Linked DNA regions of Homo sapiens: region 2 is reported to be linked to region 1. Evidence: microRNA targets listed by miRTarBase, many of them from high-throughput screens and not tested one by one. Region 1 holds a microRNA gene; the other region holds the end of a gene's coding sequence.
What was found. Region 1 holds the annotated microRNA hsa-miR-6883-3p (UUCCCUAUCUCACUCUCCUCAG, at 2,224-2,245, opposite strand). A microRNA usually pairs through its seed, bases 2 to 8, with sites in the 3' UTR of a target mRNA and lowers its output. Matches are read on the target gene's strand: a 7mer-m8 pairs with bases 2 to 8, a 7mer-A1 pairs with bases 2 to 7 and ends in A, and an 8mer does both.

Region 2: miRTarBase lists DDX17 as a target of hsa-miR-6883-3p. Seed matches in the 3' UTR shown: 7mer-m8 at 2,514-2,520 and 7mer-A1 at 1,654-1,660.

What each region holds. Positions count from the first base shown.
Region 1 is chr17:8,142,771-8,147,042 of GRCh38, forward strand. MIR6883 (microRNA 6883) reads right to left here and starts at 2,301; the gene lies at 2,224-2,301. PER1 (period circadian regulator 1) reads right to left here. Exons shown (of 23, transcript NM_002616.3): 14 at 4,127-4,232; 15 at 3,824-3,995; 16 at 3,602-3,732; 17 at 3,188-3,367; 18 at 1,981-2,223; 19 at 496-1,106; 20 at 1-65.
Region 2 is chr22:38,482,086-38,486,221 of GRCh38, forward strand. DDX17 (DEAD-box helicase 17) reads right to left here. Exons shown (of 13, transcript NM_006386.5): 13 at 1,353-4,136. The coding sequence ends at 3,850. It overlaps KDELR3 (KDEL endoplasmic reticulum protein retention receptor 3), which reads left to right. Exons shown (of 5, transcript NM_006855.4): 5 at 411-1,362. The coding sequence ends at 451. Among named protein-coding and RNA genes, the nearest start is that of KDELR3, 16 kb to the left of the region's middle.

The sequences.
Region 1 (4,272 bases):
AGAAGTTCGAGCAGGTCACTGGAGCCGGAAAGTGCGTCCTGATTGGAGGACTCAGTGACCTCCGCCTGGAGGAGGGGAGGGGGGCAAGGAGGGATGGAGGGGTCAGCACCTAGGCCTCCCTTCAACTGCTCTTACTGGTTGTGGGGAGAGGCACATCCAACCCCAGTGGTCTCTGCTCCCCACTTCGTGACAGTAGGGCCAGGCTGAGAGAGAAGAAAGCTGGCGAAGAGTGGGGATGTGAGGCCAGACCCTTTCCAAGTGACAGATGCTCTCTCAGAAGTTATTGAGATGTCCTCACCACCTGTCAGACAGACAGGACTGTCCCTTCAAAGAGGAGGTAGCCAATTTCTGCCTCATTCAGAAATTCAGCTGGGGACTCCCTCCACCTCCTGGAGGCTGAGACGCCAGCCTGGCAGAGACAGCAGGCAGCACAGGGTGGCAGAGGGGCGGGGCTGGGGTGGGGGCTGGCAGGCAGACGCAGGGGTCAGTGCTCACCAGTCTGGCCTCTGGCTCAGCAGCCTCCGCACTGGGAGGTGGGGGCCCGGCACTGCTCCCAGGGCCTCCTGCAACAGCAGCCCCCTCAGCACGGGGGAGCTCCTCCAGCTGCAGCAGATTGAGCTGGAGTGGAGAGCTGCATCTCGAGTTGAACAGTGGAGAGTCCGGGCGGTGAGGAGGACTCGGGGCGAGGGCGGGCAAGGATGGAGAAGGGGAGTGCGAGGCAGGAGTGGGAGGCCCTTCAGCAGGGGTCTGGAGTGCCCCATAAGGATAGCTGGATGGGGTTGGGAACAGATAGTTAGGGAGCACCAAGGCCACCATTGGGGTCACCAAAGGGGCGGGGAAAGCAGCTGGGGGCACAGATGTGGGAGCAGGGGGAAGAGGCTGGGGGCCTCCTCGAGGAGAGAACACTGGGAGAGGGTAGGGCTGGACAACCGCTGGGAAGGGGGTAGTGGCTGGTGGGGTGGGCCAGGGGGTGGAGGGTGGCACGGGTGAGGGGTGTGAGACATAGCAGGGCGCTTCAGCCCGAGGGTTCTGGTGGTGGCGTGAGCGCTTGGCTTTGGATCGGCAGTGGTGTCGGCGGCTTGGGGGTGCGGGGCCGTGGTGGCAGCCTGTGGGGAGAGACTAGGGTTAGCAAGGACCTCAACCTGGGGTTAGTACCCCTGCTACCCACACTGCCCTGACACGCTGACCAGGGAGAGGACAGGCCAAGGTCCCAGAGAGAGCTTCTCAACCCACACAGAACGGGGGACTCAGGAGGTGGGGCACCTTCAGGGAAGAATCACAGGAGCCAGGGACAAGGGGATTTATTGAGAAAGGAACAAGGCCAGGGAGAGGTTACACGAGGGGTCGAGCTGGGGGTGTGCGGAAGATGGAGGCATGCTGGCAGATGGAGGAAGCAGGGTGAGTCCATGGACACATGGACAGATGGCTCTGGTCCGCCAAACTCCTGTGGGCACTGCCAGCCTAGGCATTCCTCCTGCCCATCGAGGCCGTATTCTGCCTAGCTTGCAATGGAGTGAAGAGTGGGGCTGGAAAGCCCAGTCCTGAGTCCTGCGTCTGCCTGCAGGGGATCTCCCTCAGGCACCTGGAGGGGCTGCCTTCCACCTGCCCTTGAAGCCCAGACCCCACCCAGAGTTGGCCCAGAATCTATGCATGTCTCTTCATCAGTGACAACTGACTCCTAAGTGGGCATACTTCCTGCCCCTGCCCCCAGGCTAGGCCTGAAGTCGCTTACCTGGAGACAGCACCTCTGCCTGCCCATCCCAGTGCCATCCCCCCAGGCTGCCCTCCTCTGGCTGCAGCCCGGAACCCCATCCTAGTGGGGAGAAGCTAGCGAGGGGCCTGTCCCTAGGCAGGGCCTAGTGGTGGAAGCAACACCAGCCTGGGTCCCTGGAGCAGAAACACCTCCCTTAAGACCCACCCCCCAACAATCCAGTCCTAGACTGGGCAGAGGGCAGGCTCCAGGAGGCCCCAGGTGGCTACCTCGCTCGCCAAGGGCTGAGGGAGCTGTGGAAGAGCTGTCGAGTCCACGCAGCCTGCCCAGGTCTCGGAAGCGGCTGAGGAAGGCTTGCTCTTCCTTCTGTGTGTGCAGGGACAGCACGGCCTTGGTCAGCCCCACTGGACGGTAGGCGTCTGGGGCTGGGTCAGGGGCTACTGTGGGGCTGGGGGCTGGGCTGGGGGCTGGGCCTGGGGCTAGGCCAGGCAGGTCCTCCATCATGATGATGTCTGAGGAGAGTGAGATAGGGAAAGGTCATCAGAACCACTTCAGGGGTCAACACATCCATACCACACCCTCCCTGTCTGATAGCCTAGCCAACCCCTGGCAGCTCTGCCCCACAGCCAAGCCTGGTCTCCATGTACGTTTCTTGGTCACCTCTCTGCCAACGGCTGGCCCTGGGTCCTCCTCTCCATGCAAAGCTGGCCCAGAAGAAGAGACGATACTCAGGCCCCTCCAGTGGCCACTCCCTGCCAGGAACTCTACTGGGATGACCCCGTCACAACTCTCATTGGAAGAGAAGCCCACCCCTTGGCCTTCCCTCACACATTTTCTTGTTTCTTTTTTTTTTTTTTTTTGACATGGAGTCTCACTCTTTCTCCCAAGCTGGAGTGCAGTGGTGCGATCTCAGCTCACTGCAACCACCACCCCCTGGGTTCAAGCGATTCTCCTGTCCCAGCCTCCCGAGTAGCTGGGACTACAGGCGCGCGCCACCACGCCCGGCTAATTTTTGCATTTTTAGTAGATACAGGGTTTCACCATGTTGCCCAGGCTGATCTCGAGCTCCTGATCTCAGGTGATCCTCCTACCTCAGCCTCCCAAAATGCTGGGATTACAGGCCTGAGCCACCATGCCCAGCCCCTCATGATTTTCAAGGTCAATATCCAAAGACCCTTCAGGGATGTTCAATTTTCCTTGCCTTCAGACCCTGTGTGGTCAGCACCTCAGGGCAAACCCTCTATCCCAGACTCTGTGTTTCAACTGACAGTAACAATACGAGAAGCAGAACAGGGGAAGGGCAAAGCCGAGAAGCCTGGCAGGGAGGGGAGAGCAAGAAGCAGTAGCCCCAAGCCCCAGGTCAAGGGAGGCCTCCTTCTCTCCATCAGGCCCTAGAGGGGAGGGGAAAGGCAGGAGGGAGCTCTAGCTGGGAGACCGGTGGAGCCCAAGCACTGCCCCCCAATTCCACACCCATACCCGACTCCGGGGGCTTCTTGTCTCCCACATGGACGATGGTGGAGCTGAAGCTACACTGACTGGTGACGGACACCACACTCTCCGCCTTATTGGCCAGGGCGAGCGGGCTCAGGGTGCCTCCCACCACTGGCTCCTTCCGTGGGGTGGCCCCCTCCCCAGACAGCGCTGCTGACGGCGGATCTGTGCAGAGAGATGGTGCCAGTTACCATCCCCACCCCCACTGGGAAGTCAGGAGAGAGGATCCCAGGGAAAAGGGGAAGGGGATGGTGGTAGGGAACAGAGGGAACAGTCTGGAGACCAGGAGGCTGGGGAGGAGAGCAGGGCAGAGCAAGAGGGCCCAGAAGCAGAAGGGAAAAGACACAGGGCCACCAGGCCAGGACGGGGCAGTGGGAGCAGGGTGCATTGGATCTTTACCTTTCTTGGTCCCCACAGAGACTGGACCTGTCCTCTGCCTGTCGTCGTCAGAGGCTGAGGAGGTGGTATAGGAGGAGGAGGAGGCACATTTACGCTTAGTGGTGCTGGGGAGGTTGCAGCTCTCCAGGTACCTGGGGATGGACACAGCACAGGGCATCAGAGCAGGGCTTGGGGTGGGCAGGGTTAGAGCCCGAGGTGGAGAAGATGCCTGGCAGGCCTTACCTGAGGATGCTGTCCAGGCAGTTGATCTGCTGGTAGGAGCAGCTGGAGGCTTCTTTCCTCTCGGCCTCCTCAGGGACCAAGGCTAGTGGGGCCTGGACGGGAGCAGAACCCGCCTCCAGCTCTGGGTCTGGGGATTGGCAGGGAAGGGCCTTGGCCTTGAACGTGCCTGTAGCTGGGGCAAAGAGAGAAAGAGGAAAATAGCCTTCTCAAGCTCACATGGAAAAAAACAGCAAATGGGTTGGGGGTGAAGGTCAGGGGACCCCCCAGGTCTGTCTCTTCACCCACACATCATCATCAACTCACCAGGGAGGCGGGGCCGGGACTGAGGCCGGGCCCGAGACTCAATAAAAAGCTGCTGGCCCTGGTGCTTCACCAGATGCACATCCTTACAGATCTGCTGGAAAGTCACCTGTGGGACACAGCACCACAGTGAGCAGAACCAGGGGGTG
Region 2 (4,136 bases), not on the chromosome of region 1:
GGGTCATTAAAAAACCCAATCCACTAGCTGCTATGTAGGGTAGAAAGCAGTCCAAGTACAGTGACTAGCTATGGGGCAGTTGCAGTTGATCAGGAAAAAGGCTCTAGGTAGAAAGACATGTGGACACAAGTTCTAGGACTTGAGAAGGACTGCTGATTTGATTGTATGAGATGTACAATAGACAATTTGAGGCCAATCGCTAAGTTTACAGCTGGGGGGAAGGGTGCCAGTAACCAAGTCGGGGATCAGTAGGTCCATAGTCAACCGGAGATGGACTCCCCCTTTGCTTTAACAATCGAACATATACTGTGAGCCGGCCATTAAGAGATGATACCAAGATTATGCATCAAGTTATAAAGCAGTCCTTTCATCAGATGGTAAATTCTTATTTCATCTCCATTTTCTTCCAGTCCTTAAGGGAAAGAAGTTAAGTCTTCCAATGCCAATCTGAGGACCTTCAGAGACAGTCTACGCCTTAACAAGCACATGAAGGAAACTATTTTGAATGTTCTCTTTGGCAACTTATCCATAATTTGGGATCAAATGTTAAAACCAGAAAAGTGTTTAGTGTGGATTTCAGCAAAACCTGATCATCCCACCCAGAAGACCTTCTCATCAATAGATCGCCCTTAAAGACCCATTGTAAGGTCATAAAAAACCTCGGCCACCTGCACAAAGATGGTGCCTCACTGCAACAAGAAACCTTAAGGTGTCTTACCGACGAAATAAAAAACATAAATGATTGTTCTCCAAGGCCTGAGGGCAAGACTCATGATGAGCAAGTCAACCCCAATCTGGAACAATGTCCCTCCTCTTAGAATGTCCCAACTAAAGACCAGTTAAAATATTAGGGTACGTTCTTGTGAATTTCCACTTTCCAGGTAGATGACCAAATTTAGGTGGTCAAGATATAAAGGTGTCAGCTAGTTTTAAGTGTGAAACTTATTTCACTTTCACACTGCCTTCAGGCCAGAAGCAAACCAAATTTACCAGGTTTGGCTGGAGGAGTTTTGTGACTCATCTTTTACTGGTTTGAATTTTTTCAAACCAGTGGCTGATACCTGCCTTGTACTTAGTACCTTAATACCAATAACCTAATGGTACTTAGGCGAGTACCATTTGCACAATCACTGTTTTACTTATGAGCAGATACAGATATATCCAAACCCTTACCTACTAGGTATCCTGCTAGGGTTTTCAATTCCAATTCTTGTATTAAGTTTTTTCCTTTCAGTTTTAGGTGCGAAAGTAATCAGTCAATCCAATATCCCCCATCTTTGTCTTGAAACAAAAACTGTTTTAAGACGTCTACGTTGAATTATTCAGAGAATTAAGCAATAAAAGCTCACACCTTATTGTCAACAGTGTTTTTATTTATACCTACAAAAAGAAAACAAGATGATGGTATCAAAAGGACAATTTACAAACTAAGAATAGTAACATAGCTTTCAGCATCCTGTGCCTGAACATCACACATCTACAAGTCTTTCAAGTCTTAATGCAACAGGAATGTGTCTGGAGACCAGCAAGAACATCAATAGAGAGCACTGATCCCAAGCAAAAGCCACTAACCTTTTAGATGAGAAGTCCACACAACGAATTGTTAGGGAGGATTGGGGAGAAGCAGCCCATTGCTTAATACATTGGAACCCTTTCCCTAAGTTGAGTTTCAACCATGAATGCAATAACTAGCATAAAACGATTCTTCTGCTCATGTTCTGAAGCCAACAGCAGAACCTGAATTATAAGTGACAGACATGGAGGCAGAAGAGTTAAACTCTGCTAGATTTCAGCTGTGCTCAGGCCATAATAGTTTTTGAGGTTTGGAATTTACTGTTATTTTATGATTACAATGTCCCAGGTGGAAAAAGGGAAGCAAGCAATCCAAATAACCACTTGCTTGCCCAGAGACCTTTCCCTCAAACAGATGCTTTCAAGAGCTGCGAGAGAGTAGGGCATCCCTTGTGGTGGTACCTCTATGTTTAAAGAAAGAAGAAAAAAACCCAGAATTTGGTTGTAGAAAACAATGCCCACAACAGACTGGCCAGTGCTTAGACAAATTTGGGGTTGGGGGGAACACTTTGGTTTGAAAGCACAGAGCAGTTTGCCATGTTTCTTCTGTGCCTACCATTCTCCCTTGGCCTCAACTTCTGTAAGATGGGGGGGGGACAAAAAGAGAAGTAAAGTTAAGAAGAAAGTGGAAAATTAAAAAAAAAGATGTCAAAGTTTTTACATGCATATATTTCAGCTTATGCTGAAGACCTACCTGTATGTTGCACATTGAATCATACTTTCAGAACCCCTCAGAAACCATCCCTCTCTCCCTAAAGAATTTTAAAAGGAAAACAAAACCTCGAGTATAGATCTTACAGATGAGCAAGCATTCAGGCCTTAGCCAAAGAATGCAGTGGAGCCTTCCCCCTTCAACTGCATTGTGAATGAATACCAATTAACAGCATAAAAATTAATAGTCCCATATCAGATCTGGAAGGGGTTTCTGGGGCTGTCTGATGTCCCTATCCTGTTGTAGTGAACACAATAGCAGAAAATTCTTTCTGGGTCCATCTGCTATAAAGTCTTGGTAAAACAGCATTACCATGAAGAGGATGAACTCACCTACCTTCAGATGGAGGAAAAGTGAAAAGGACTTAGGCTTTAGTCCTCCATGACTTTTCTTAAGCACTACCTACCTGTAATAAGCTGAGTGCAAAAGGATGCCGAAGAAAATCTGCACCCAGAAGCTGTTAGAAAGCACTGCAGAGAACAGGGTATGAAGAAAATAAAGAGTTCTTAATAAACCCTTAAGATTCTTTGTTCAAGGTAACTTTGCCAAAAGGGCAGAGTAGGTGGCAAAGAGTTGCTTTTAATCTAGCTCTACACTGCATTTGAAAATAAAATTTGCCCATTTTGAATATATTGTTTATAATTAAATGTGCTTTTTACACTGCAGGTCAATATAAAAACTGGTTAGTAAATTTCCAGCGAGCATTTATGTTCATTTGCTCACAGCAGCTGTCTGGATGGAAAATTAATTTCACAGATGGTCCCCAGTTAAACTGGGAAGAAATATAGGCAGCTTCCACCCAGATGCTGAGATGCTACAGTTTAACCACTACAATAAACACTTGTGGTTTTTAATTTAAAGGATACACAAAACTCAGCAATTCAATTTCTAGCCTGACACTAAAATGGTTATTTTTCAGTAACGGGGGGAGAAGTGGGGAGGCAGAGTGTGAAGGGAAATAAAACCAATTAGTAATTTTTAACTATCAAATGCACTCCAGCAATCAGTCAAAACAGGCCCGAGGAAACCTGTTCCAACTTAAGAAACATTTAAAAGCACAAAAGAAAATGTGCAGGGCAATCCCTCTTTGTTTTCTAACCCAGTAATGAGAAATTTAAAGCACAGATGCCATCTTCCTCTGCAAAACAATTCAGCCCTCCCCCTCCCTCCCTCCCCACCAACTCAGAAAAACAAAACATGGGGCTCCCACAAAAGGGCCTAATACCTTACTCTTTTAGATGAAAAATAGCTCAAATATCTTCAACATGCAAGAAGTTGGGGGAAGAAATTAATCTCTTCCAGTCAGCTATATATATATATATATATTTTTTTTTTTTTTACAAAATGTTATTCCAGACTGGATCATTTTGGTGGGCAGAAGAAACCTGGCAGTGAATTCTAACTAATCTGCATGAAAAGACAAATCACGATGGTTGGGGGGAAAAATTAAAAAAAAAAAAAGAAAAAAGGAAAAAAAAAGAAAAGGCGAAGAGGAAAAAAAAAGGAAAGACAGTGTTCCTTAAAATGTAATTAAGTCTGCTGGAGTCACTACCACTTGAGTGGTTTCATTTACGTGAAGGAGGAGGAGGGGGAGGAGGAGGAGGGTATTGGTAGGCAGTCTGCCCCATGTAACCTATCATATTGGTAGCTCCCGGAGGCTGTGCAAACTGTTGTGACATCAGTGGCTGTGGCTGCTGCCCAGACCGGCCTATCCCACTAAACTGCTGGCTAGAGCTCTGTGAACTTCTCCCAGTTGAGGTGGTGCTACTAGCTCCATAAGTGCCAGCACCATATTCTTGAGCTGTATAGCTACTGGTGCCATAAGCAGCTGCCCCATAGGTGCCTTGACCAT